Homo sapiens: one gene and its partners. The protein of the gene in region 7 purifies or fractionates together with the protein of the main gene of each other region. This does not show direct contact. Each region holds a gene or a part of one and is shown on either strand. Other genes may lie near its edges. The genes, in order: DGKE, GALNT1, ATP2C1, DHRS7B, PTPRF, AIG1 and SLC6A12.

Region 1 (3,500 bases), on a different chromosome or scaffold from region 7:
CAGAATTTGGAACATAAAAAGTTTCTCTGAAATTCAAATTCAACTAGGCATTGCCGTTTTTTTGTTTTTTTTTTCTGGCAACCCTAGCCCAACCCCAGACCTACTAAATCAGAAACTTGGGCTGGACATCAGCAGTCTTGGTTTTAACAGGCCCTACAGGTCCTTCTAAAGATGGAGAACCACTGCTATATTTACATATCTTTAAAAACATGCACCTCCGTCTCTTAATTTTGTATCCTCCCATTGAGCACACTGAATCTGTGTGATAATAAATCTTCTTTTCTTCATTAGTGCATTTTTACAGAGTAACCCCTTACCCCATGATAGAAATTGTCTCTGTGTAATTTAGGAGATGTTTATTATTCCCAAGAGAAGAGACCACAGTGTCCTGAAGTTGTACATATTCTACAGTGTTCTGAACTGATTTATGTTGGCCAATAATTGTATACAGGATTACAGTCTCCTGTGACCTTCTGTAGGAATGAGATATTTTGGAAGGAGAAACAAAATAAATAGCTACTTAGAACCTTTAAACACAGACCAGACAGTCCTCTGGATTTTATCTAGCCCTGAGGAGAGCTCCTTCCCTGTCTGCATCTCATTCTTAGGGAAGTGAGTGAACTCTGCAGACAAGTTACATTTCAAAGGACACTAATGAGAGATGATGACTGAGTTTAAAGCCTGCAGAATAAGTGAGAAAGGCCCTTTAATTTATACTCATTCGATCATTATACTTATTGAGCATCTATTTTTGTTCTAGACACTGCTAGAGTCTACTTTGTCTGTAGATTTTTTCTTTTTGTGTGCTCCTGTTTCTACCCCCAACCACTACATCTTCTTTTTCTTCTTCTTATCTCTCCTCTGACTAAAATAGGGAATTAGGTTATATTTTTACATATTCAATATATTTATTAAATGAACCTTTGTTTCTTGTAGTGTTCTATCTCATTAAGAGAAAAAGAACTTAAAGTGCTTTTTAATTTATTGGACTTTTTATTCATTACATCTACCCCACGCCTCACACACAATTACTGTGATTAGTAAAACAAAGCTGCTGACTCTCAGAAGGCAGTTAGATTGGCCTCAGTGTAACTAGTCTCAGCTTTGATCATAAATTTTGTTTCTATATTCTATTGGTGTGTGTTTATTCATTTCATTAATTATCTGAAACAGTGAAAGATACCAAATCATCTTCTAGAGCAGAGGTGGGCAAACTTACTGTAAAGAGCCAAAAGAATTTTCGGCTTTCCCAACCATTTCGTCTGTCATAATTACTTAACTCTGCCATAGTTGCAGTGCAAAACCAGCCATGGACAATACATAAATGAATGAGCTTACCTGTGTTCCAGTAAAACTTCATTCACAAAATCAGATGGCAGACATATTTGCAGTTTGCAGAACCCTGTTCTAGTGAATCTTATAAATGACCATCTCAACTTTATGTATAATTCAGCTGCCTCCTTCAGCACACTAAAAAAGAGAGCTATTGTGACCAGGTAATTTTTTAGAGAAAACAAGCCTTGTTAAACCTTTTTTTTTTCTATAAATACTACTGCACAAGAACGGCATATAAATTCATGAGGCATTCCATATTTTCATATGAAGGAACTTTCTAGAGTAATGTTCTATATCTTGATAAGGGTTTTAGTTACGTATGTTCATTTATCAAAACTCAGGAAGTATATACGTACATTTCATTGTATGTAAATTTTACATGAAAAGGAAAAAACATCATGAATTCTAGGTAGTGATAAGCCTATTTGCTGATGTATTCAGGAAGTATTCTGATGTCTTCAGTTTACTTGGAAATGTACTAAAAATAAGATGAATTAATGGATAGAAATGTGACAAAGCAATTACAGTAAGATGTTAATGGTAGAATGTAGGTGGTAGGCATACCTGTAAAAAATATTTTTAAGTAAAATATTTTAAAAAGCAAGTAAACTATTCTTGCTTTTAGAATATATTTGCTAAAATATTGAAGGGTGAGATCTCATACTGTCTGCAGTTTACTTTCAAATGATCAAAAAAATATGAATTTATATGGAAAGAGAATATTGTGGGAGAAAATGTCATTAAGAATCAGCGTGAAGGGTGGGCTTAGGGTATTCATTTTGCTATCCTTTTGACTTCTCTGAAAGTTTGGAATTTTTCAAAATAAAAAGAAAAAAGATGATAAGCTGTTACCCAATGACATGATGCTAAAGCTGAAATACCAAGACATTTTAGTAATGTCTTATCTTCCCAGTGAGTTTGAAATCTAGGTTGTTAAATACCAATTACAACATAGGTAAAGACAATAGGATTCAGGTTTGAATATGGTATTTCTAAAGAAGAATGTAATACTGAGTAATTAGTAAGCATTTTATTTTATTTTGTTTTTTGAGACAGGGTCTTACTCTATATTGCCTAGGCTGGAAGACGGTGGCAAGATTATGGCTTACTGCAGCCTTAGCCTCCCAGGTTCAAGCAATCCTCCCACCTCAGCCTTCCAAGTAGCTGGGACTACAGACATGCACCACCATGCCTGATATTTTTTTTTTCTTTTTTGTAGAGATAGGAGTATCACCATATTGCCCAGGCTGGTCTCAAATTCCTGGGCTCAAGCAATCCTCGCATCTTGGCCTCCCAAAGTGCTGGGATTGCAGGCGTAAGCCACCATGCCTGGCCCTAGTAAGCATTTTAGCTGTACCTTTATAGAGCAAAGGCTCATAATAGCTATTATCTTGGTTAAAATAATCTTTTCTGGGCTGAGCGCAGTGGCTCATGCCTGTAATCCCAGCACTTTGGGAGGCCAAGGCGGGCAGAGTTCGAGACCAGCCTGACCAATATGGAGAAACCCCATCTCTACTAAAAGTACAAAATTAGCCGAGTGTGGTGGCGCATGCCTGTAATCCCAGCTACTCGGGAGGCTGAGGCAGGAGAATTGCTTGAACCCAGGAGGCGGAGGTTGCTGTGAGCCGAGATCGCGCCATTGCACTCCAGTCTGGGCAACAAGAGCGAAACTCCATCTCAAAAAATAATAGTAATAATAATAATCTTTTCTGAAATTTATGAGAATTTAATAAATGATAAGTGTTCTGTCACAAATTATTGGGGGTAGAAAAGATGGTTTTATGAATCGTGTTAGGACAAGTGCTCTTGGGGGAGGGGAGAAGGTTAACTCTTCATAATACGCCAGATTTATTATGGGTAGATTAATGCAGTAGTTTGTTTTGTTGTTGTTGTTGTTGTTGTTGTTTTTTGAGACAGTCTCACTCTGTCGCTCAGGTTGCAGTGCAGTGACATGATCTCGGCTCACTGCTACCTCTACCTCCCAGGCTCAAGTGATTCACCCGCCTCAGCCTCCCGAGTAGCTGGGATTACAGGCATGCACCACCACACCTGGCCAATTATTTTTTATATTTTCAGGAGAGACAGGGTTTCACCATGTTACTCAGGCTGGTCTCAAACTTCTGACCTCAGGTGATCCGCCCGCCTGGCCTCCCAAATCCTGGGAT
Region 2 (3,500 bases), on a different chromosome or scaffold from region 7:
TTTATTTGTGTCTCAGTTTACTTATCTGTGAAGTGGAAATAACAGCACAATCCTATAGTGTTGTGCTTTAATATTCATCAAGCATTCAGATTTGTGCTTGACATAAAGTACATGCTCAGTAAATGTTAGGATTATTAGATCTGCCTGGAAAAGCAATTGGTCAGCCCCTAAAACTGACTAAACCAGTAAAGGTCTAGATTGTTTACTTTTTGTTGTTTAGAATACTCAGCTCCTGAGTTAACAACTATCAGATACCACAATGAAACACATTTGTTCAGGTCCTACAGGAACTACGAACGTCAGCGTTAGCTGAAGCCAGATGCCCTAAATTATATCTATTACCCTAGTCATATTTACATTTTCTGATTTCCCTTTCTGCTGAAAAATCCTATGATTTCAGGTTTCCCTGGACCCTTGAAGCATGAGAAGAGATCTATGAAAGGCTAAATTACTGTTGCTAGCAAAGGAAGGCTCACATGGGTGAAGCTGTGATCAGAAGCATAAGATCCCTGGGCTGCACTATGGTGGGTACTCTTAAGAATGACCTCCAATCTAGAAATGACACTTTTAACCTGTAGGATGTGGCCTGGTATTAAGGGCGTACAAGGCTTAAGGCCAGCTGTTAAGTTAATAAGGCGATAACAAGCAGGCCACAGAGGGTAAACGCTGCGACTTGCCCAGAAGCCAGCTGGCAAGAGGCAGGTAAGACGCAAGCTTGCCTTGGCAGTCATCTACCATGGAGCAGACAAGTGTTTCTTTGTCACACGCCCGAACTCTGGCCCAGCTAACAATGCCTAGGCATTGTCCAAAATTGGGTCAGCTCAAAAAAAACAAAACAAAAACAAAAAACTCCTCATTTTTGGTTCTAAAGACAAGCTGCAGAGTGACTGCTAGAAATCTTTCCCTGGCGCACCACTCACCCTGGGCCTTCTTTGACCAGTACGAGGTCACAGCAAAGGAAAACACATTCCCATTAATGAGGCATCAGTGAGAATGAAAGGCTCAAGAAACTCAATGTAGCCCTCACTTGTTTGAAAACAAATTCCTTAAATCACAACAAGGTTCAGAGGTAGGGAGCTCAAGTCAATCCTGAAGTAGCCTTAGTAACTGTTAGGATAAATGCGTAAGTCTGTGCCTGCCCTGGCACTGAAGAAAACACCAGGCCAGATGGCTTCACCAACTCTCCACCATCTGGCTTCCTTCAGTGATCTACTTGCTTTCCCTTATCTTACATTTCTATTTTACATCCTTTTCTCTTTCCCCAATTCCCCCTCACCAACACCTTCTTCACTCTCAGCCCATAATCTTGTGTTCAACTGAGGAAACAAGCCACCAGAAGAGAAGGTCCTCACACTTCCACCACAAACTGCCAGTTTCCACCTCCAAACCTACAGCTGCCCTGCACTTGTTCCCATTCCTCTACCTTCCTCCCCATGATAAGAGATGACCTCTCTTCTTCCCACCCCCACCCAACACCCTCTACTTGTGTACAGATTTCACCTCCTATCCACCCAAATACATGACACCCATAACAACAGATCCCTTCTTTCTTTTTATTCTGGTGCAGAAACACATAACATAAAATTTACCATCTAAACTGTTTTCAAGTGTACAGTTTAGTAGTGTTAAGTATATTCAGGCTGTTGTGAAACAAATCTCCAGAACTTTTTCATCTTGCAAATGTGAAACTCTATGCCCATGAAGTAACTCTTCTTTAGGCCCTTCCCTCAGCCCTGGTAACCACCATTCTACTTTCTGTTTCTATGAGTTTGACTATTCTAGCTGCCTTATATAAGGAGAATCATACAGCATTTCTCTTTTGGTGACTGTCGTATTATGCTTAACATAAGGTCCTCAAGGTTCATCCATGTTGTAGCATGTATCAGAATTTCCTTCCTTTTTAAGACTGAAAAATATTCCATTGTACGTTGTATCACGATTTATAGCAGTCACTCTGTAGCTTGTCTTTAGAACCAAGAAGGAGGAGTTTTTTACTTTGAACTGACCCAATTTTGGACAATGCCTAAGCATTGCTAGCTGGGCCAGAATGAACGGACACGTGGAGTGCTTCTACTTCTTGGCTATTGTGAATAGTGCTGTTATAAACATGTAAGTAAAAGTAACTCTTCAGACCCTGCGTTCATTTCCTTTGGATACATACCCTGAGGTGGAATTGCTGGATAATATCGTAGTTCTCTTTTTTGAGCATTTTTTGAGAAACCTCCATACTATTTTTAAATAGCAGTTGTACCATTTTACATTCACACCAACAATGCACAAGGGTTCCAATTTTTCAGTATCCTTGCCAACATGTGTCATTCTCTGTTTTTTTGATAGTGGCCATTCTAATGGGTGTTAAGTTGGCTCTTTCTTTTGCATCTTTAAATTTTCTCTTTTGGGTTGCTCATATCAGCACAGTTTTATCTTAATAAAGAAATAAAAACCCCTTTAAGCCCATATTCTCCTCCAGCTACCACCTATTTATCTTCTCTCTTTTACAAGAAAATTCCTTGCAAGACTTGTACACATTCATCTATGTTGCTTCTTCCATTCTCTCTTCAAAACAGAGTTTTTAACAACATCCATGGGGAACTCTCTCAACACTGTGAGATAGGCTACTGATAACATGTCCCTAGCCAAATGCAATAACCAATTCTAAGTACTCATCTTCCTCAATTTCTCTGCAGTATTCGATACAGCTGATCACTTCCTCTTTCCTGAAACACGTCTTTCCCTTAGTCTTGGCGACACCACTCTCTAGGTTCTCCTATTTCACTGCCTACTCCTTCTCAATCTTTTTTGCTGATTCCTTCTCATCTCCATGATTTCTAAACTGTGGCATTCCCTCTGGCATTGTCCTCGGTCTTCTCTCTCATACTTAACATTTTCTCCTCCTCAGGTGACCTCATACAGTTTTGTGGCTTTAAAAACCATCCTATATGCTGACAACCTAAGTTAACATCTCTATCACAACCTCTCCCCCAAAGTGAATATTCTTAAATGTAAAGACCTATTCATATCTTCACTTGGATCTCAAATTTGATGTGTCCCAAACTACTGTTGATTCCCTTGAGCATCTGCTCTTCCTGTAGGTTTTCCCATCTCAGTAATGGCAACTTTACAGTCAGTGTCTCAAGCTTGATAGAAACCAGACATAATCCTTTACTCTCTTCAACAATACACCAGCTCTACTCCTGTTTCCATATAGTTTTTCTCCACATAGCATACAATGTGATCCTTTTCTAGTGGAAGTTTGCTGGTATCTTTCGATAGCTTCCATTTGATTCAGAATAAAATGCAAAATGCAAAGTTCTCACTATAACCTAAAAGCTTTATATGATTTGACCCTCACTTTGTCTTTGACCTTATCTTCTACTACTCTCCACCTTGTTCACTCTATTCCAGACAACTGGTCTCCCTGCTGTTTCTGGAACGCGCTAAGTACATTGTCATCTTAGAAACCTTTATACTTGTTCTTCCCTGTGCCCAGAATACTCTTT
Region 3 (3,500 bases), on a different chromosome or scaffold from region 7:
AGCTTACCTCCCACAAATGCCCCATCCTCATTGTGACCAATGGCACATGTTTATAAGAAGGCTGTGTCTGGGGCTGCAATCTGTGGCTACAAAATTAAGCAAAGCTAAAAACCCATAATCTTTGCCTACTTATTAGAAAGCACTCTACTCAAGTGAGTCAATCAAGTCAATCAACTAAGTTCACCTAAACATACCTGGGATCTGGAACTTAGTGCATTGAACATGTCAAAAAACACAAAGCATGTGAAGGTCATTGTTGTGTCTCGAGGTGTAATCACATTGTCTCGTAGCTGTCAAGAGGCAATAACAAAATTACTTTTCAGTGGCTGAATTTAATGGATAAATCGCTGCTTTTTAAAAAATATAAACATTTTCTTTCCATTAGGAAGAAATAACTTTAGCCTAACACATGAAACATAAAAGCTACCTAAATTTCCTATAAATCACCTAGTGAATAGCTGTAATCTACATAATAAAAAGTAAAAAAAAAACTTCTCATGAACTATGTATTAGATATTAAAATACTGTTATTATTTAAAAATAATAAAGTGGCTCTATGATTTTAAGACTCAGATTTTCCAACTTCTCTCTAAATTTTCATGTATTTTTATTGTAACTGATACTTCTCTGCAGATTTATTCTAATACATGAATCAATAATTTTATTTATCCATAAAGATGGAAATCAAACTCTTTTAAAATGTTCTTATATTTTTCACTAAAAGAGCTCCCTTAACTTCCCAGCCTTCTGGGTAACCCATCAAAATAACTAAGAATCCTATCAGATATACAGAATTCATGTTAATATAGCAGCTTGGCCAGTGAATATACCTCACGCCAGAAGACAAACAAAGTCCCACAAACAATGATTATTGATGAAACAAGTATTTTAAGTATCAAGTTTTTAGTCAAAATGCTGTCTTTCCAGTTGCGAGGAGGTTTACGAATGACATCTTTATCCACTGGTTCTACTCCAAGGCTTAAAAACAAACAGAAAAATAAATTACTTTCAAGTTTTAAGGTCTGGATTTGTTACTTTCACAACCTCACTAACCTCAATTATTCGGCAAACTAAATGCTTTCTTATAGAAACAAAATGTTGCATCATAAAACGCTGGCTGATTACGCAAAAATAACCACTGATTTTGTCACTTTTTCTCTCCTCTTTATTTGTTTGGCACAATTTGATAGGGGATAGATAATCAACTTTCAAAAAACCATCCAATTCATTTACATGTAAGTTTACCTATTTCAAATACGGTGTGAAATACATGACCTACCGACTGAATTTTGAAATATCTTTCATATAAAGAGGTTTTAACTGGGATGATTTGCTGGAGTGGCCAAATGACATCTATCACTCAACTACCCCATTATTATTAAATTTTTTAAAAAAGTTATGACACTCAGGTCCTCTAATACTTTCCCAAAGTCTCTAAAACTGACAGTAGAACCTAGATAATAAAACTGAACCCAGAAATTTCTCCATTATACCCATTTCTTAGAAATAAAAGGCTTACTTACTTCCTGAGGACAGGGATAGCACCTATTCCTGATCTATTCTCAACCTTAGGCTAGGCATCTAACAGTGGAAAGGCTCAGATCTACACTGCATGCACACTCAAAAAGAATTAATAAAATACACACATCACACAATTTATAACATAAATGTTAAAACATTTGCTGCAAAGTTTTCCAACACTGTCCATAAATCAAGTTTTAAAACTTAATTATCAGGGTAGTACACATTCCTTGTCTTTCCAGCTCATGCAATTAAAAAACTCGTACCTCTGAGCTGGGGGTCCATCCATAATAATATTGATCCACAAAATCTGCATGGCATTGAGAGGATTAGGAAAGTTCATTAATGTAGCCAATGAGATTAAAGTTAATGCTGCTATACTCCTGTTGAAAAAGAGAGTCATTTAAAAATATCAGTAGAGTAAATCTGTTGATTCTATGATACCACTTTTTTAGCATTTAAAAATCTCTTACTACTATGCTTTTAAAGGAAGACTGTTTCAAGTAAACTATTCTTCAGTCACGTGGACATTTTAAAGCTAAGAGTATTTTAACAAAGGATTTTCAAGATGTTTAGACAACAGGAACAAATAAAGAATTTTTACATCTGCATGATAGTTTCAACAATATTTTGGTAACTGTTCTTTGACTACACAATACCCCTTCTACTTTTGGAAAAAGATACCAAGAGGAAACAATGAGATGTGAGCTATTAAATAAATCACAAAGATTTATACATTTTGATGATACAGACATCTAACTGTTACATTTACAACCTATTTATCATGCCATTTAAAATTTCAGAATACAATAAATTTTCTTTTTGGAAAACTGACATATGAACAATGCTCACAAATATAAGGCAGAGAAGTTTCTAGGCATTCTGCTTAAGTTCTACTTTTCATATAATTTATCCAGAAGACCCATGGTGACAAATTTCTTGCAAACTTACGTGCTCAGCTGGAATCTAACGAAATTTTTAATGTTATTATAAATCCCTTTACCCTCTTCGATTGCAGACCTGAAATTTAAAAAATAAAGATGAAGTGAGAAAATATTATCATACAAAAATGTATCTATACTAAAACACTGTAGAGCTAATTTTGAAAATAAATTTCCAACCGGGCACTGTGGCTCATGCCTGTAATCCCAGCACACTGGGAGGCCGAAACTGGCAGATCACCTGGGGTCACGAGTTCGGACCAGCCTGGCCACCATGGTGCAGCGAAACTCCGTCTCTACTAAAAATACAAAAATTAGCCGGGTGTGGTGGCGCATGCCTGTAATCCCAGCTACTCGGGAGGCTGAGGCAGGAGAATCGCTTAAACCCGGGAGGCGGAGGTTGCAGTGAGCCAAGATCACACCACTGCACTCCAGCCTTGGCAACAAAGTGAGACTGACTCAAACAAACAAACAAATAAATAAAATAAAATTCCAACTAATACAACACATGTATCAATATGGAAACATTTATTTTAGCAAAGAATTAAAGTCAAGCCTAAGCTCTACCTGAACTAATTTGTCACAATATTAAAATTCTTATTCTGAAGAAGATACTTCAACATTAAAATCATGCATTGTCTCTTCACACAAGAGAAAATACTTCACATTCATAATACATAAAATGATTATCTTTTTTTTTTTTTTTTGAGACAGGGTCTTGCCCTGCTTCCCAGGCTGGAGCGCAGTGGCACAACCTTGACTTACCTGCAGCCTCGACCTTCTTGGCTCAAGCAATCCTCCAGCTCAGCCTCTAGAGTAGCTGAGACCACAGGCTCACATCACCACTCCCAGCTATTTTTTTTGTATTGTTTGGAGAGATGGGTTTTGACATGTTGCCTAGGCTGGTTTCGAACTCCTGGGCTCAAGTGATCCATCCACCTCAGCCTCCCAAAGTGCTGGCATTACAGGCATGAGGTACCCTGCCCAGCCATGATTATCTTCTTCACCTTCCTCTAAGCTCATTTTTCTTAGTGGTAC
Region 4 (2,978 bases), on a different chromosome or scaffold from region 7:
TCACTGAAGTAAGAGCAGCATGTCTCACTGTGGCTGACCGACAGATTTTCATAGGAGAAAAGAGAAACCGGGCCTCACCTCCATACCTAGATCCATCCGCGGTGATGGCATTTACAGAGAGGTTGGTGTGGATGTAGCCGGGGCTGATGACGGTCACCTCAATTTCATACTGTTCCATCTCGGCACGCAGACAGTCAAAGAAAGCCTGGGTTGCGTGCTTGGAGGCTGCATCTACACATGTGGACGGAGAGGCAGGTGACTGAGTGCGCTGGGGTGGGCATGGCCTGGTGCCCAACTATTCACTACCATTCACGCTCTCTGTTTTGAAAACCTGGTTTTATTTGTGATCGTCTTGCTATGTTGCTTAGGCTGGACTCCAGCTCCTGAGCTCAAGTGATCCTCCTGCCTCAGCTGGGACTGCAAGCGTGGGCCACTGTGCCCAGCTTTAAAACCTGGTTTTATTATTTAAGATTACAGTATTATAACAATGTTCATTTCCTGACTTTGAGAAGTGTACTGTGCCCTTGTTCTTAGGAAACAAACTGAAATAGGAATAAATGAGCATCATGTCTCCAGTTTCCTTTCAAATGGTTCAGGAAAAAAATTATAAATTATATACACATATAGTTTTATATATATTATAAACGGTATATATGCATATACACAGAGAGAGAGAATAAGATAAAGGAAATAAGGTAAAAGGTTAACAGGGAATCTGCATGAAGGGTGCATGGGAGTAATTTGTGCTGTTCCTGCAACTTTAAGTCTGAAGTTATTCCAAGTTAAAAGTTAAGCTGGGCGCGGTGGCTCACACCTGTAATCCCAGCACTTTGGGAGGCCAAGGTGAGCGGATCACGAGGTCAGGAGATCGAGACCATCCTAGCTAACACGATGAAACCCCGTCTCTACTAAATATACAAAAAAAATTAGCCAGGCTTGGTGGCGGGTGCCTGTAGTCCCAGCTACACGGGAGGCTGAGGCAGGAGAATGGTGTGAACCCAGGAGGTGGAGCTTGCAGTGAGCGGAGATCGCGCCACTGCACTCCAGCCTGGGCGACAGAGCGAGACTCCATCTCAAAAATAAATAAATAAATAAATAAATAAATAAATAAAAGTTAAAAACAAAAAAAACTGAATGACTACTGGGTAAAACATTCAAATAGTACATTAAAGGACAGAAAGTACAAAAAAAGAAAGTCCTCCTGTCTTCCAAATTCCATTCCTAGAGATAATCAGTGCTAACAGTTTCCCAGAATTTTTGTTTAATTCTATTTTGGTTTTCTTTTTTTTCCTTTTTTTTTTTTTTTTTGAGACAGAGTCTCGCTCTGCCACCCAGGCGGGAGTGCTGGAGTGCAGTGGCACGATCTTGGCTCACTGCAAACTCCGCCTCCCGGGTTCACACCGTTCTTCTCCCTCAGCCTCCCGAGTAGCTGGGACTACAGGCACCCGCCACCACGCCCGGCTACTTTTTTGTATTTTTTAGTAGAGACGGGGTTTCACTATGTTAGCCAGGATGGTCTGGATCTACTGACCTCGTGATGCACCGACCTCAGCCTCCCAGAGTGCTGGGATTACAGGCGTGAGCCACCGCACCCGGCCTTCTGTTTTGTTTTTTTAGAGAAGGCATCTTCTCTGTTACCCAGGCTGGAGTAGAGCTATGATCATAGGATCATAGCTCCTTGCAGCCTCGACTTCCTGGCCTCAAGCAATCCTCCCACTTCACCCTCCCAAAGTGCTGGTGGGATTACAGGAGTAAGCAGCCATGCCCAGTGATTTTTTAAAAATATATTCTACGTATATTCATGTGATTTTACACATTTTATATATTTTATATATATATATATATATCTTTTAATACAGAAATGAACTCTTACCTATTCTACTGTTCCTGCAAGTAGCTTTCTTCACCTGGTGGCAGGTTGGACAGCTCCCATGCTGGCCCTGCAGACCTGCCATGTAGCTGTGGCTGCCTAGTCCTCCCCAGTGAGTTACCAAGTGACAGAATTGGCCCCATCAGTGGGCCTTCATGGGTGTAAAAAATCCAAACCTGCCTTCTTATGTCTCATTTTGACAAATGTCCAGGCAGTGGCTTTTCATCTAGAAGAGCTATAGAGCTTACTCCACCTGCAAGAAACAGAGCTGTGCCTGCTCTCGAGCAAGGGCTTCACAACCCGGTAAAAGGTGCTCTGAATGGGAACACAGTGACCCTATAATGACATTCCTGGGAAACACACCAGCGTCTCCACAGTAAATCAGTTTCCTCCAATTCAGAATTGTAAATGTTTTAGCCTTAGGAAAGAAGGGGCATCCGTCAGCTAAGGAAACAGGAAGACAGAAAGAAAGGAAGTGTCGCAGCAAGTCACATGAGGCAGTTCAGCAGTGTCTGAGCTTGCTGCAGTGCCTTGCTGGGCCTGCTCCATTGGTTTGGGGCACAGTTGCTGGGGGCTGGATGAGTTGGCTGTGGGTGGATGGAGAGGACTGCTCCTATCAGCCATGATTCCAAGAGTACAGCCCAGGCTTGGGGACAGGGAAGAGTGGGTTATCATGTAAGTCCCCAAAACAGAAGGCTACACTCTGACAGCTGGGTCTCCCCAGAGCTCTCAGGCTGTGAGTTCTCAGCCAGGCTGTGCTGACCTCGCCGCTGGCCACATCACTTACCCTGCCAGTGTGAGGCCCAGTACTAAGGACACTGTGGACCACGTGACTTGGTCTTTACTTTAGCAGTGTGACAGAGAAAATGCCGTTCTCCTCATTTTATAGGTGAGAAGGCCACTACTTATCTGAGTTAACCAACTTGCCCAAGAGGCACTCCATATTCAGCCTGGTCATTATAAAACTGAATACGGAGACCAACCATTGTATGCCTTACTGCAGTCAGCAGGCCAGACAACAAAAATCAGTGGTATTATTATAAATCAAAGTAAAACTTGAAAATAATTTAGTATAAAGAACTCCAGCTGGGCGCGGTGGCTCATGCCT
Region 5 (3,500 bases), on a different chromosome or scaffold from region 7:
GGTCCTGATCTCCTTCTCGAACTCCTCACCCAAGCCAGCCCGGTTCTTGGCAGCAAGCCGGAAGATGTAGGTGGTCCCCTTGTGCAGGCCGGTGACTGTGAAGTGCTGGTCATCCTTGCCGAAATCTATGGTGTTGGGCCGCGCCTCGTCGGCCCGGCAGTACTGCAGCCGGTAGCCCAGCAGCTCGCCAGGCAGTTCCTTGGGTGGGTGCCACTGGAGCAGCGCAGTGTTCATGGCCGTGGTGCTGATCATCATGGTGGGCCGGCCTGGGACTGAAGGACCACGGGCTGGGCTCTGGCGCTGCCCTCCTGCTGCCCCACCCTCAGGTCCGTCCTGACCCCTCACTCACCTGCACCTGTTGTAGTGACAATTTTGGGCTTGCTGCGGGCACCATCCCCCTTGGTGGTATAGGCAGCAACAGTAACGGAGTAGGTGGTCTCCGGGGTCAGGCCGCTGATAGTGGTTTCCTGAGGGAGGAGGAGGGGTTCGTTCCCATCACAAGAATGCAGGGAGAGGCCAGACCTTGTCAGGGACCTCAGGACCCTAGCCTGAGGGGAGCCCCGGGGCACACAAGGCCAGGGGTTGTGGAAGGTGGGGCTATACAATGGTGGCCTCTGCTGGAGAGGAAGCAGGCAGGTAGGATGCAGGCCTGGGAGGACCCCGCCCATCCCAGGAGCCGCACGCCTGGGGCAGACAGCTCATTATTCTTTTCAGACAAGAACAAAGGGCCAGACTGTTTCCCTCACTCCACTGTGCTGTGAACGGAGACTGAGGATATCAACAGGGCACAGCCTCGCACGCACCCAGCACCTTGCGTGGCTCTTGGCAGCCACACGCACACAGCCTACAGCTCCTGCATAAGCAGGCGTAAGGCTGCCTGTGGACACCAGTGCATGCATGCACAGACAGAGCAAGGTGGCAGGATGGGCTAAGGTGCCATCCTATAGGACCCAGTCAGGACTCCGCTGCCCCCATATAGGCCACTAACTCTGTGAATGTCTATACCCTGCAATACCTCTTGAGAAAGGCAGGGGAGGGGCTAGGAGAATAAGAAAACCTCCACACCTGGGGAACTGGCTTCCACATCTGTTCTCAGTGATGCCTGAGACAGCAGCCAGGGCAATGTCCTCCCCGCTTGGCAGACCCTGCCCATATACCCATCTGCAGCAAAGGCATCATCTCTGGACATGCGGAGAAACACCATGGGAGGTCAAGCCACACCACACAGAGAGAAGAGTGGGAAGCAGGGCAGGGACCACCGTGCAGTGGGAACAGAGCCGTCATCAACCCTGGTATCCCTCCAGCTCTGGCCTTGAGTGGGGCCCCTGCAGCTGCCACCACCCCCTCATGGACCCCTCCTGCCACAGCTGGAGGGTCTCCCAGGGCTGGGGCTCCAGAATGCACCAATGCCAGAATCCGACTCTCCAGACAGCCCTCCCAGCCTGGGCCCTAAAGCAGGTGATTTTTCACTCCAGGGATCAATAAGGCCTAACGATCAGGATTGGATTTAACTCCATCCCTGTCTGGCCGGGGCAGGGGCCAGGCCCTGGTCGATCATGAACACTGGCCTCAAATTGCTGCTCGACAGGCAAGAAGTAAGGATTAGAGGAAATGCCAATCGCTGCTCAGCTCAGTGCTTGTGTCTAAACGCCAATTTTCTCCTGATGTGGCTAGAGCCCTGTGGATCTTGGCAGTGCAGGCTAGCAGGAAAGGAGGGAGAGGAGGAGCGTCCCACGAGCCCAGCTTGACCCATGTCTTGTCCGCGTTCGCACACCTGTTACTTACATAGTCCTCGGACTCCTCTGGCCGCCACTGACCGCGGGAGAGGGAGAGAAAGGGAGACAGGATGGTGAAGGACTCTGACCTGGAGAGGGCCTGGCCTGGAAGGGACCTTGCCCAGGGAGGACAGAGGGAGGGCTTTTGGGCCTCAAAGTACCCATGGGGGTAGCACCCCAGAACAACTCCCGGTTCAAAGATTTGAATCCCTGCCTCACTGAGCACCAACTGGGTGTGCCAGGGCTGAGGAGGGTAGGGAGACAGGGAGGGCAGGCAGCCTGCAGGGAGAGGACCCGCTGACAGAAGGCCCTAAGAACACAAAGCAGCTACAGATGCTCTGACAATTTTGGGCTTGCTGGGAGGGAGAGGCTGCCAGACAAGAAGGGTGGGTTCAACAGCTCAGGCCAAGGGAAAGGAAGACACTGAGGGGTGAATGGGGTGCCCATATGCCCTGGTTTGCCTCGGACAGTCCTGGCCTGTGCTTGTTGCCATGGAATTGACTATTCAGTGTCTCCTTCCACCCGCCAAAGCATCCCAGATGTGATCATACATTACACAATCACCCCAGGCATGAGAAGTGTCCCACAACAGTAAGAGTTGGGGGTGAACAGGGCACATGGCCAGGGTGGGCCCAAGGGCAAGCCAGTCAGCAAGACTATGAAGGCTGTGAGTGCCAAGCTCAGAGCCTGGGCTGTAGCCCACAGGCACGGGAAATCACCTATACCCGTTCCTTCCTCGGGGTGTCTGAGGATTAAGGTAGGAAGGAATGTTTCGGGGCTGGCAGTGTTGCGGGCCTTTGGTGCATGTAGATATTCTAGATGGACAGGTGGAGGGACTGTGAGGTCTCCATTCTGAGGCCCCATGAAACATCACAGGGAGATGGTCCAGGATGTCTCCAAGCCGGAAGTACCTGGGGTCCTCCAGCCCAAGCACCCCCACAGTGCCGGTCTGGCCTCTGTCCACTGGCCTCCATGCTGGGTGGCCTAAGTTCCTCCTGTCCTGGGACACTCTGTTGGAAAGTCCTTGCAAGAAGCATGGAACAGAATATGAGAGGAGACTCTGGACAGGTCCTTAGTGCATGGCCACTTTATAGGGTGTGGCTGGGCCCACGTCCCTTCCAGTCTCCTTGCCTGCGGGGAGACCTGGGCTGTCCCAACCAAGCCTTGGCGTGGAGGTTCTCACATCACATGGACCCTGTCCTGCGCTAGAGGCAGAGCAAGAAAGAAGGGAAGGACGGAGGATGAAACCAAATGGAGATGAAGGAAAGGGGTCAGAGGAATGGCAGGGGGAGGAGGGAAGGAAGGAGGAGAGAGAAGAGAAAGAGCAAGACAAAAACAGAGACTCCAAGAAGGAGAGAGAAATGCAGGCCACGAGAGGGGAAAAAGGGAGGCAGGGAGATGGAATCTGACGTAAAAGGAGACAGGTCTGGCTCCACACTTCCAGGCTGGGGGTGGGAACCTGCACCACATAGTTCCTTCAGGCATGATGGGGGATGAGCTGAGGGGATGGTGCTGTTGCGTGAAGGACAGAATGTGCCGCCCTTGACAGAAGCACAGGGACAGCTGGGCCCTGTGGCCACGCTCGGGACCAGGCCCCACTGCTCTCCCACTGGCGAGGAACAGAATGACCCAGTCCTGAGAGGGCTACGGAGCAGGCCTCCATCTTCAGTGTCCTCCGGGAGCCCAGACTCGAGTTACCGCCCCCATGATGGGATGTCTGAGACT
Region 6 (3,500 bases), on a different chromosome or scaffold from region 7:
GGGTTTCTCAAGAGGTGATTATATATGGTTGAATGAGGTCATTAGGGGGCCCTAATCTAATATGACTGCTATACCTTATAAAAATAGGAAGTTTAGGCAAAGACAGGCACAGAGGGATGAGTGTGTGAAGACACAGTCAGAAGGCGCTGTCTGCAAGCCAAGGGGAGAGAGGCCTCAGAAGAAACGAACCCTGTGGACAACTGCATCTCAGACTTCAGCCTCCAGAACTACGAGAAAATAAATGTTTGTTGTTTAAGCCACCGCATCTGTGGTACTGACAGCTCCAGCAAACTAATAATACAGAAACCTCTTATAATGAACTCTTTTTTTTTCTCTTAGAAGTCTGAAATAAGAGCCAAGTTTCTTTTGTGGCTAAATGCATCCTCCATCATACTCACAACCCCAACAGGAAAGGCCAACACAGCTAACATCCAGTCCCGGAGAGAGATGAGCTTCTTGAGCTGCCTCTCTTGCTCCTGGTTCCCACTTCCTCGAGTCAGAAGACTGGAAAGATCAGTCAGCACACAGATGCCAAAAAAGACAGCCTGGATAACCTGTAGGGGGACAACAGCCGGTATGAGTCATTAAGATCTGGAGACCCAAGCTGTGGAACAGCAAATGAGCTGCTGGTGTACAACATGACATCTAATAAGAAAGGATCAGAAGCATATTTTAAAGAGCTGCTCCTAGAAATAGAGAACAGACATTTACAACTTGCTTTTATACAGAAAGTTCATCTTTAAAACACCACTTCCATTTTCACTCACCTCGGGACAAGTGCAAAACATGCATGCACACACACATCTAAATAGGGCCCATCAGAAAGAAGTATCAACGATCAAACCAGCAGGGCCATTATTTTAAAGCATCATGTCTATGGTTTGTCATGGTTTCTTCTATGTCATGTCTAAATCACATCTATGGTTTCTACTAGTCAATATAACTAGTGAGTTTTAACAAATATCTAAGAAGTGAAAACAAAAGGGTGAGGACTGTCTGAATAACAAGACAATTCAGTCTAAATGTGAAAAACTTTCCTATGCTTTCATCTCTTACATTTAGATATTTTTTCTATCAAAGGAAGTGGTAGGAAGTGGGTCCTTGAGTCATAAAAAAATCGACTGAATGTAATAATTAAGGCTGATATGAAACAAGTTTCTGTTGTCAAACTTGAACTAAATGACCTTCTACTCAGGTTTTTAGTATTTATGAAATAAAATATTTCCAAAGTAATATAAACAGAGATACCCATACAATTTCTCTAACCGCCCCCCCAAAAAAACTACAGGTTATACATTCCTCAAATCAATTATGAATGGAAGCATTTAGATCAGCTATGTTTTATTTACTTGGACTATTGCAAAGGAGAACACTGCAGGCAGCATACTGTAATGCAGCTAGATAGATGATCATTCAAATTATGGAAAGGGCAGAAAATGTATCCCCTGCACACAAAGTCATACCCAATTAGCACCAAGGATAGATTCAGGAAAATTTTTCTGGCTTTTTTCCTACTGAAAATAGTTTACAGATGATATCTTTGTAAAAGACACAATTTTACTCATTGCCTCTTTAGAAAAGATAGCAAGGACCTTTTTTGGTAAATTTCCTCATTGGCAGTAGAAAGAGTCTGTGAAAGCTCTGTGGATAGGGTCCTCACAAGGGAAGAAGGATCCTAAAAAGTATTTAGTTCCATCACTTAGCATAGCACTAGAACACAGAAATTGTTAACCTAGGCTTTTTGGAGTTCATCAAATCTTACTATTATTAGTCAGTCTTAGGCAGAGTAATGTTCTGTTTCCTCATAACGTAGCCTGTCTTTAGCTTCAGTGACTTAAGGTTTACTGTCATTCTTTCTGCAGCCAGAAAAGCCAGAGTAAAAGAAGCTAAGACTGCCACAATTGAGAACGACACAATAAAAGTGTTGGCAAGAGTCATGTTTTGATAACTAGAAATAACTTAAATGACTCAGGGAATAATTTCATACTTAGAAAAATGTTCTATTTTCTATTTTTCATATATTCCTATTCATATCTTTCTATTTTTCATATCCTAGGACTTTAGATGTTTGAATCTCTATGTTGGCCCTAATGGAGTTTGATTAAACTGGAGTGACCCTACCAGAGGAGAATAATCTTCATTATTCTTCATTACTAGCTAATCTGGCTAGTAAACATAAAAAGGTAACTAACAACCAGGGAAATGCAAACTAAGACCACAATGAGGTAGCATTTCTCACCAGTGTAATTATTTACAATTTAATTCTTACAATACCAAGTGTTACAAAGATGTAGAACAACCAGAAAGCTTATGGTAGGAATGCAAATCTGGACAACCGCTTTGAAAAACAACTGACAATATCTACAGATGCTCCTCAACTTATGATGCAGCTACGTCCCTATAAACTCATAGTAAACTGAAAATATCTTAAGTTGGAAATGCATTTAATACACCCGACCTATAGAATAGCATAGCTTAGCTTAGCCTATCTAAAATGTGCTCAGAACACACACATTAGCCTGCAGTTGGGAGAAATCATCTAACACAAAGCCTGTTTTATGATAAAATGTTGAAAATATCATGTAACTTATTAAATATTGTGCTGAACATGAAAAACAGAATGGCTTCATGAGTACTCAAAGTATGGTTTCTATTGAATGCGATCACTTTCACACCAGCATAAAGTCGAAATATAATAAGTCAAAAATTCTGAGTTGTGGACCATCTATAGTAACTTAAAGATGCATATACTCTATTTATTTCGTGATATAATTATAAAGGGCATTTCCTGCAGAAACTCTCATATATGTGTACTAGTCATATCTACCAAAGGTTAATTTGAGTGTTCATTGCTTCAAAAAAGTTGAAATAACTATGTTTCTTAATAGTTGACTGGATAAATAATGGTGTTATATTCATACAATGGAAATCTAAACCAATATAAACATTTTATTTTCACAACAAAATGTTAAACCAAAAAAAAAAAAAAAAAGGAAACCAGGAAAGAATTCTGACAATTAAAATCAATTTCAAAAAAAAATGCAAAGATAAATTTAAGGATGCAGGGATATGAAGTAATACATGAAGAAATGCATGGGAATTAATAACATTGCATTAAGGTACCTCTAGAGAGAGAAGGATAAGATTGGAGGAAATATTATCTGCACAGGGCTTCAACTGTACAAATAATATTTTATTTCTTAAGTTGGTTATTTGGCATACTGAAATTGATTGTATTATTCTCTCTATATTTCACTGGTGTAAAATATTTTCAAATAACTTAAAAGTTTAAAGAGAGTGGTTTTTATTCTTTTGAAATATAGTTGGCTAGCCTCTTTCAAATCCTTCCCTTCTAATTCAATATCCCTTAGTTTTAAAGATTGACTAAAAAATAGGGTTTGGTAAGCTCAAAAAGCCTAGTTACTGCATTATATGTAAAATTTCTGTGGGATTTTTGTTTATAGGCAGAGGAAGTAGAATATTGCCTTGGTACTGATAAA
Region 7 (3,500 bases):
GTGGACTTGACCCCCTTCCAGATGCAGAAATAGCAGATGACCCAGGCGAGCAGGAGGCACAGGGCCAGCTCCCAGCGCAGGGAGCCCAGGTCATGGATGCCCGAGGTGATGCCCAGAACTCGTCTCCTGGAGGATTGGGAAAAATAAGTAATGAGGGGAAAGGCTAAAGGGGACAGTTTGCGTCTGTCAGCAAGTCTCCTGATTCTCAGAGCTGACCCCACGGATCTCATATTCCAGGGCTTCCCCCACTCCCCACCTCCCCCACAGTCAGGCCATGTTCCCGTAGACCAAACTACTACCATCATCCTATGCATATCTTTATCTTTCTAACTCATCCAGATTTTTTTTCTCGTACAGAAAGATGGAGAGAGAGAGAGATGAGGAATGTATAAATGAGCGTTTAGAGAGTAGATATTTATACATGCAGGTTGATGGGCAAGTGCATGGGTATCCCGTGCAGGGGCTGAGTGTGTTAGTTTCTAAACATGTGATGGGGTGCTGGAACTGCATGCATGGGTGTGAGGGTCCAGTACTGTGAGGGCATTCAGGTGTGAGGGCATTGGTGCCTACGTGGGGGTTAGCTCAGTGTGAGAGAGTACAGGCAGTCTTGCGTGGGAATGCAGGTGGACGAGTGTGGGCACACGTAATGTGAAGGGGTACGTTGTCAGGTGAGAGGGTGAGTGTGTGAGTGGAGGGTGTGCCCATGTCTTGATGTGAGCACTCCCGCCTTGGGCAATTTCAAGCTACTGGCATGACACCACCGAGCATGGCAGTGGGAAGAGACATGCACACTCAGCTCCCCTAAAGCTGTGAAGACTCTGTCCAGCACCCCACTGGACATGTGTGGGCAGACACACGCATGGAGGTAGGGATGTGGGGCTGAAGGTGGACATGACGGATAAATGTGAGTCTCCGTGGACCCGTGTGGGTAGATGTGAGAGCGTTCTCCCCTGCCTCAGTGATGTGTGGGGTTGGAGTGGGGCGGGGGAGGAAGTGCTGGAAAGCACACACAGAATCTTAAACTTGCACCCCAGACATTCAGACTTGCACAGCTCAGACATCCAAATTTCCTCTTCATATGTGGCAAATGGGCCCAGCACCTACTCCCAGAATTCCATGACAGGTGAGGTAAAATTCTCAAATGGGGTCACTGTGCCGGCTCCTGAGTGGTTCAGAAAGTCCGTGCAATGCTCTGTTGGGGACAAGGTTAGGGACAAGATGGAGAGAGATGCTCTTATACCCTAGTCCCCCTGGCCCTCTGGCCTTGCAGCCTAGTGGTCCTCACCACTCCTAGCCCCAAGAGCTTCTTTTGGAGCCCCCACTCTCCAGGGCATCAGGAGGCTCATAGGGCCAGCTCTTCCTCCCCCTGCTCTTGTTCCCTGTGAATCTGCCTGCTCACCTGGCTGCCCTGCCAACCTCAGACAGTATCCAGACTTCAGATCTACTCAGTCCCCTCATGGGCGGCTGGTACGGAATGCACTCTCCCCGCTTGCCCGTTCTGACTTCCTGTCTCTCCACTTGGCAGGCCAAGGGACTGCGGCCCTGCACCTGCTCTTCCCCCTGCTTGGAATGCTGCCCCCATGCTGGGCTCTCTCTCACTTCAGGCCTCAGATGACACTTCTCCCTCCCCTTGTTCTATGGTTTCTGCAGTTTCGTTCACCTATCACAATTTGTAGTGGTTGTGTTTATTTGTCTGTTCTTACCACCAGACTGTAAACACAGTGAAGGCTGGGTCCCTGCTGCTTTTGCTCAGCCTCGTACCAATCTCCAGCCCTTGGCACCGTGTTTAACACACAGTAGGTGTCCAGTAAGTGCTTGTTAAGCGCACAAATGAGTAAGTGGCAATAACCCTTGCAGTCATTTAATACAGTCCCTCTGGGTTCTCCCAACCACACTGACTCGTCCGAGTGGCTGGCCTGAGGGCCTCAGAGGAGCCAAGGAGCAGAGCTGCCCAGGAGCCCACGTGGCTTGGCTGCCAGGCAGGTTCTGCTACACTTATACTCCCCGTCGTTGCTTGGATTCACCAGCCACCGCAGCCCAGCCCCTAACAGGCAACATCCCAGGGGCTGAAATGATGGATACCTGTGTTCCAAAAGTTGTTGCAGGTCGTCCAGGGCAGCTCAGAAGTGAAGGAGCTGAACAGGTAGAAGAGAGCCCAGGCAAGGATGATGATGTAGTAGACATTCAAATATGACTCGATGACCACAGATGCCAGACCAATGCCTTCCAGAGTGGGGGAGAGATGGGGAGGGACAAGAGAGATCAATGTTAGCAAAAAAGTCACATAGAAGCTGCCAGTTGAGGTTACAAGGGTATTGGGTGCTACACAAAGAGCACCATTGGGGTTTATCCAGTGGCATGAGAAGCCATTCATAGCATATTTTTCTTTCTTTTTTCTTTTCTTTTTTTTTTTTTTTTTTTTTTTTTGAGATGGAGTCTTGTTCTGTTGTCCAGGCTGGAGTGCAGTGGCACAGTCTCGGCTCACTGGAACCTCCACTTCCCGGGTTCAAGCGATCCTCCCACCTCAGCCTCCGGAGTAGCTGGGACCACAGACAGACCCGGCTAATTTTAACTTTTTTTTTGTAGAGACGGGAGAAGGGGAGGGTCTCGCTATGCTGCCCAGGCTGGTCTCGAACTCCCGGGCTCAGGCGATCCTCCTGCCTCAGCCTCCCGAAGTGCTCACTACTTAACGAAGGACTGTGGACCTTTCAGAACAGCCTGGCTGAAAAATCAATGCTGACTATGAACAAAACCTCTCCTTTGGGGCCCGGCGAGCCCACCCTGGCAAGGACGGGTTCCACCGCGGTCTCCACCGCGCAGCGGCGTTGGGGCGGCCCGGGCGTCCGCCGCGGGGGTGGGCGTGGCGCTGCGCGGGAGGGACCCGCAGACGGCAGAGGGTCCGCGGGGAGCGGGCGGGGCGTTGAGAGCGCGCACACAGACACCCAAAAAACACACAAACAAGCGGCCCCTGTGCCGCGGCGGAACGCGCTGTGCTCGCGGCCGTCCGGCCCGTCCGGCAGCCCCGGGTCAGCCCGGTGAACTAAGCGGACCCGGGATGGCCGAGCCGGGGGCCGGCGTTCTGGTGGGGCTGTCTGGGAGAGGGGCCGGGGCGGCGCTGGGTGGAGAAGGGGCTCGCGGGGGAGCGCGGGGGCGCGCGGGGGCGCGCCTCGAGCCAGTACGGCAGCTCCGGGAGAGGGGAGTGCGGCGGGCGGAGAGGCCGGCAGAGGGCGGGGAGGGCAGCCCGGACCTCCCACCAGCACAGCGCGGTGCACGCGCTTCCCGCTGAGATGCCAGGCCCTGCCGCCTCTTTGACTTGGAAAAGAAGGAAAGAGCCACGACCTCTCTCCTCTCGCATTCCAGTGCTCCGTTTGCTCACCCTGACCGTGGCACCCGCATAAGCCGTCTGTGTGTTCCAGAGAGGCCAGCCCTGCATGTGCTGTCCGTGAGCGTGCTTGGACCTACGCATAGGACCCAGCTGAGCGGGACATTTACACGACTGC

What was found.
Region 1: the proteins of SLC6A12 (region 7) and DGKE purify together in Homo sapiens (affinity purification with mass spectrometry; one large-scale study listed by BioGRID and IntAct). This does not show direct contact.
Region 2: the proteins of SLC6A12 (region 7) and GALNT1 purify together in Homo sapiens (affinity purification with mass spectrometry; one large-scale study listed by BioGRID and IntAct). This does not show direct contact.
Region 3: the proteins of SLC6A12 (region 7) and ATP2C1 purify together in Homo sapiens (affinity purification with mass spectrometry; one large-scale study listed by BioGRID and IntAct). This does not show direct contact.
Region 4: the proteins of SLC6A12 (region 7) and DHRS7B purify together in Homo sapiens (affinity purification with mass spectrometry; one large-scale study listed by BioGRID and IntAct). This does not show direct contact.
Region 5: the proteins of SLC6A12 (region 7) and PTPRF purify together in Homo sapiens (affinity purification with mass spectrometry; one large-scale study listed by BioGRID and IntAct). This does not show direct contact.
Region 6: the proteins of SLC6A12 (region 7) and AIG1 purify together in Homo sapiens (affinity purification with mass spectrometry; one large-scale study listed by BioGRID and IntAct). This does not show direct contact.

What each region holds. Positions count from the first base shown.
Region 1 is NC_000017.11:56,837,151-56,840,650, forward strand, and holds part of DGKE (diacylglycerol kinase epsilon), read left to right. Parts: exon of another isoform or gene 1-1,470; intron 1,471-3,500. UniProt on the Homo sapiens protein: Membrane-bound diacylglycerol kinase that converts diacylglycerol/DAG into phosphatidic acid/phosphatidate/PA and regulates the respective levels of these two bioactive lipids.
Region 2 is NC_000018.10:35,693,240-35,696,739, reverse strand, and holds part of GALNT1 (polypeptide N-acetylgalactosaminyltransferase 1), read right to left. Parts: intron 525-3,500; exon of another isoform or gene 401-524; intron 1-400. UniProt on the Homo sapiens protein: Catalyzes the initial reaction in O-linked oligosaccharide biosynthesis, the transfer of an N-acetyl-D-galactosamine residue to a serine or threonine residue on the protein receptor.
Region 3 is NC_000003.12:130,995,084-130,998,583, reverse strand, and holds part of ATP2C1 (calcium-transporting ATPase type 2C member 1), read right to left. Parts: intron 2,542-3,500; coding exon 2,473-2,541; intron 1,905-2,472; coding exon 1,788-1,904; intron 979-1,787; coding exon 831-978; intron 291-830; coding exon 195-290; intron 1-194. UniProt on the Homo sapiens protein: ATP-driven pump that supplies the Golgi apparatus with Ca(2+) and Mn(2+) ions, both essential cofactors for processing and trafficking of newly synthesized proteins in the secretory pathway.
Region 4 is NC_000017.11:21,185,964-21,188,941, reverse strand, and holds part of DHRS7B (dehydrogenase/reductase SDR family member 7B), read right to left. Parts: intron 232-2,978; coding exon 79-231; intron 1-78.
Region 5 is NC_000001.11:43,600,383-43,603,882, reverse strand, and holds part of PTPRF (receptor-type tyrosine-protein phosphatase F isoform 1 precursor), read right to left. Parts: intron 1,813-3,500; coding exon 1,786-1,812; intron 468-1,785; coding exon 350-467; intron 273-349; coding exon 1-272. UniProt on the Homo sapiens protein: Possible cell adhesion receptor. It possesses an intrinsic protein tyrosine phosphatase activity (PTPase) and dephosphorylates EPHA2 regulating its activity.
Region 6 is NC_000006.12:143,133,889-143,137,388, reverse strand, and holds part of AIG1 (androgen-induced gene 1 protein), read right to left. Parts: intron 2,184-3,500; exon of another isoform or gene 2,057-2,183; intron 555-2,056; coding exon 399-554; intron 1-398. UniProt on the Homo sapiens protein: Hydrolyzes bioactive fatty-acid esters of hydroxy-fatty acids (FAHFAs), but not other major classes of lipids. Show a preference for FAHFAs with branching distal from the carboxylate head group of the lipids.
Region 7 is NC_000012.12:200,658-204,157, forward strand, and holds part of SLC6A12 (sodium- and chloride-dependent betaine transporter), read right to left. Parts: exon of another isoform or gene 3,361-3,500; intron 3,095-3,360; exon of another isoform or gene 2,781-3,094; intron 2,224-2,780; coding exon 2,083-2,223; intron 1,193-2,082; coding exon 1,105-1,192; intron 127-1,104; coding exon 1-126. UniProt on the Homo sapiens protein: Transporter that mediates cellular uptake of betaine and GABA in a sodium- and chloride-dependent process.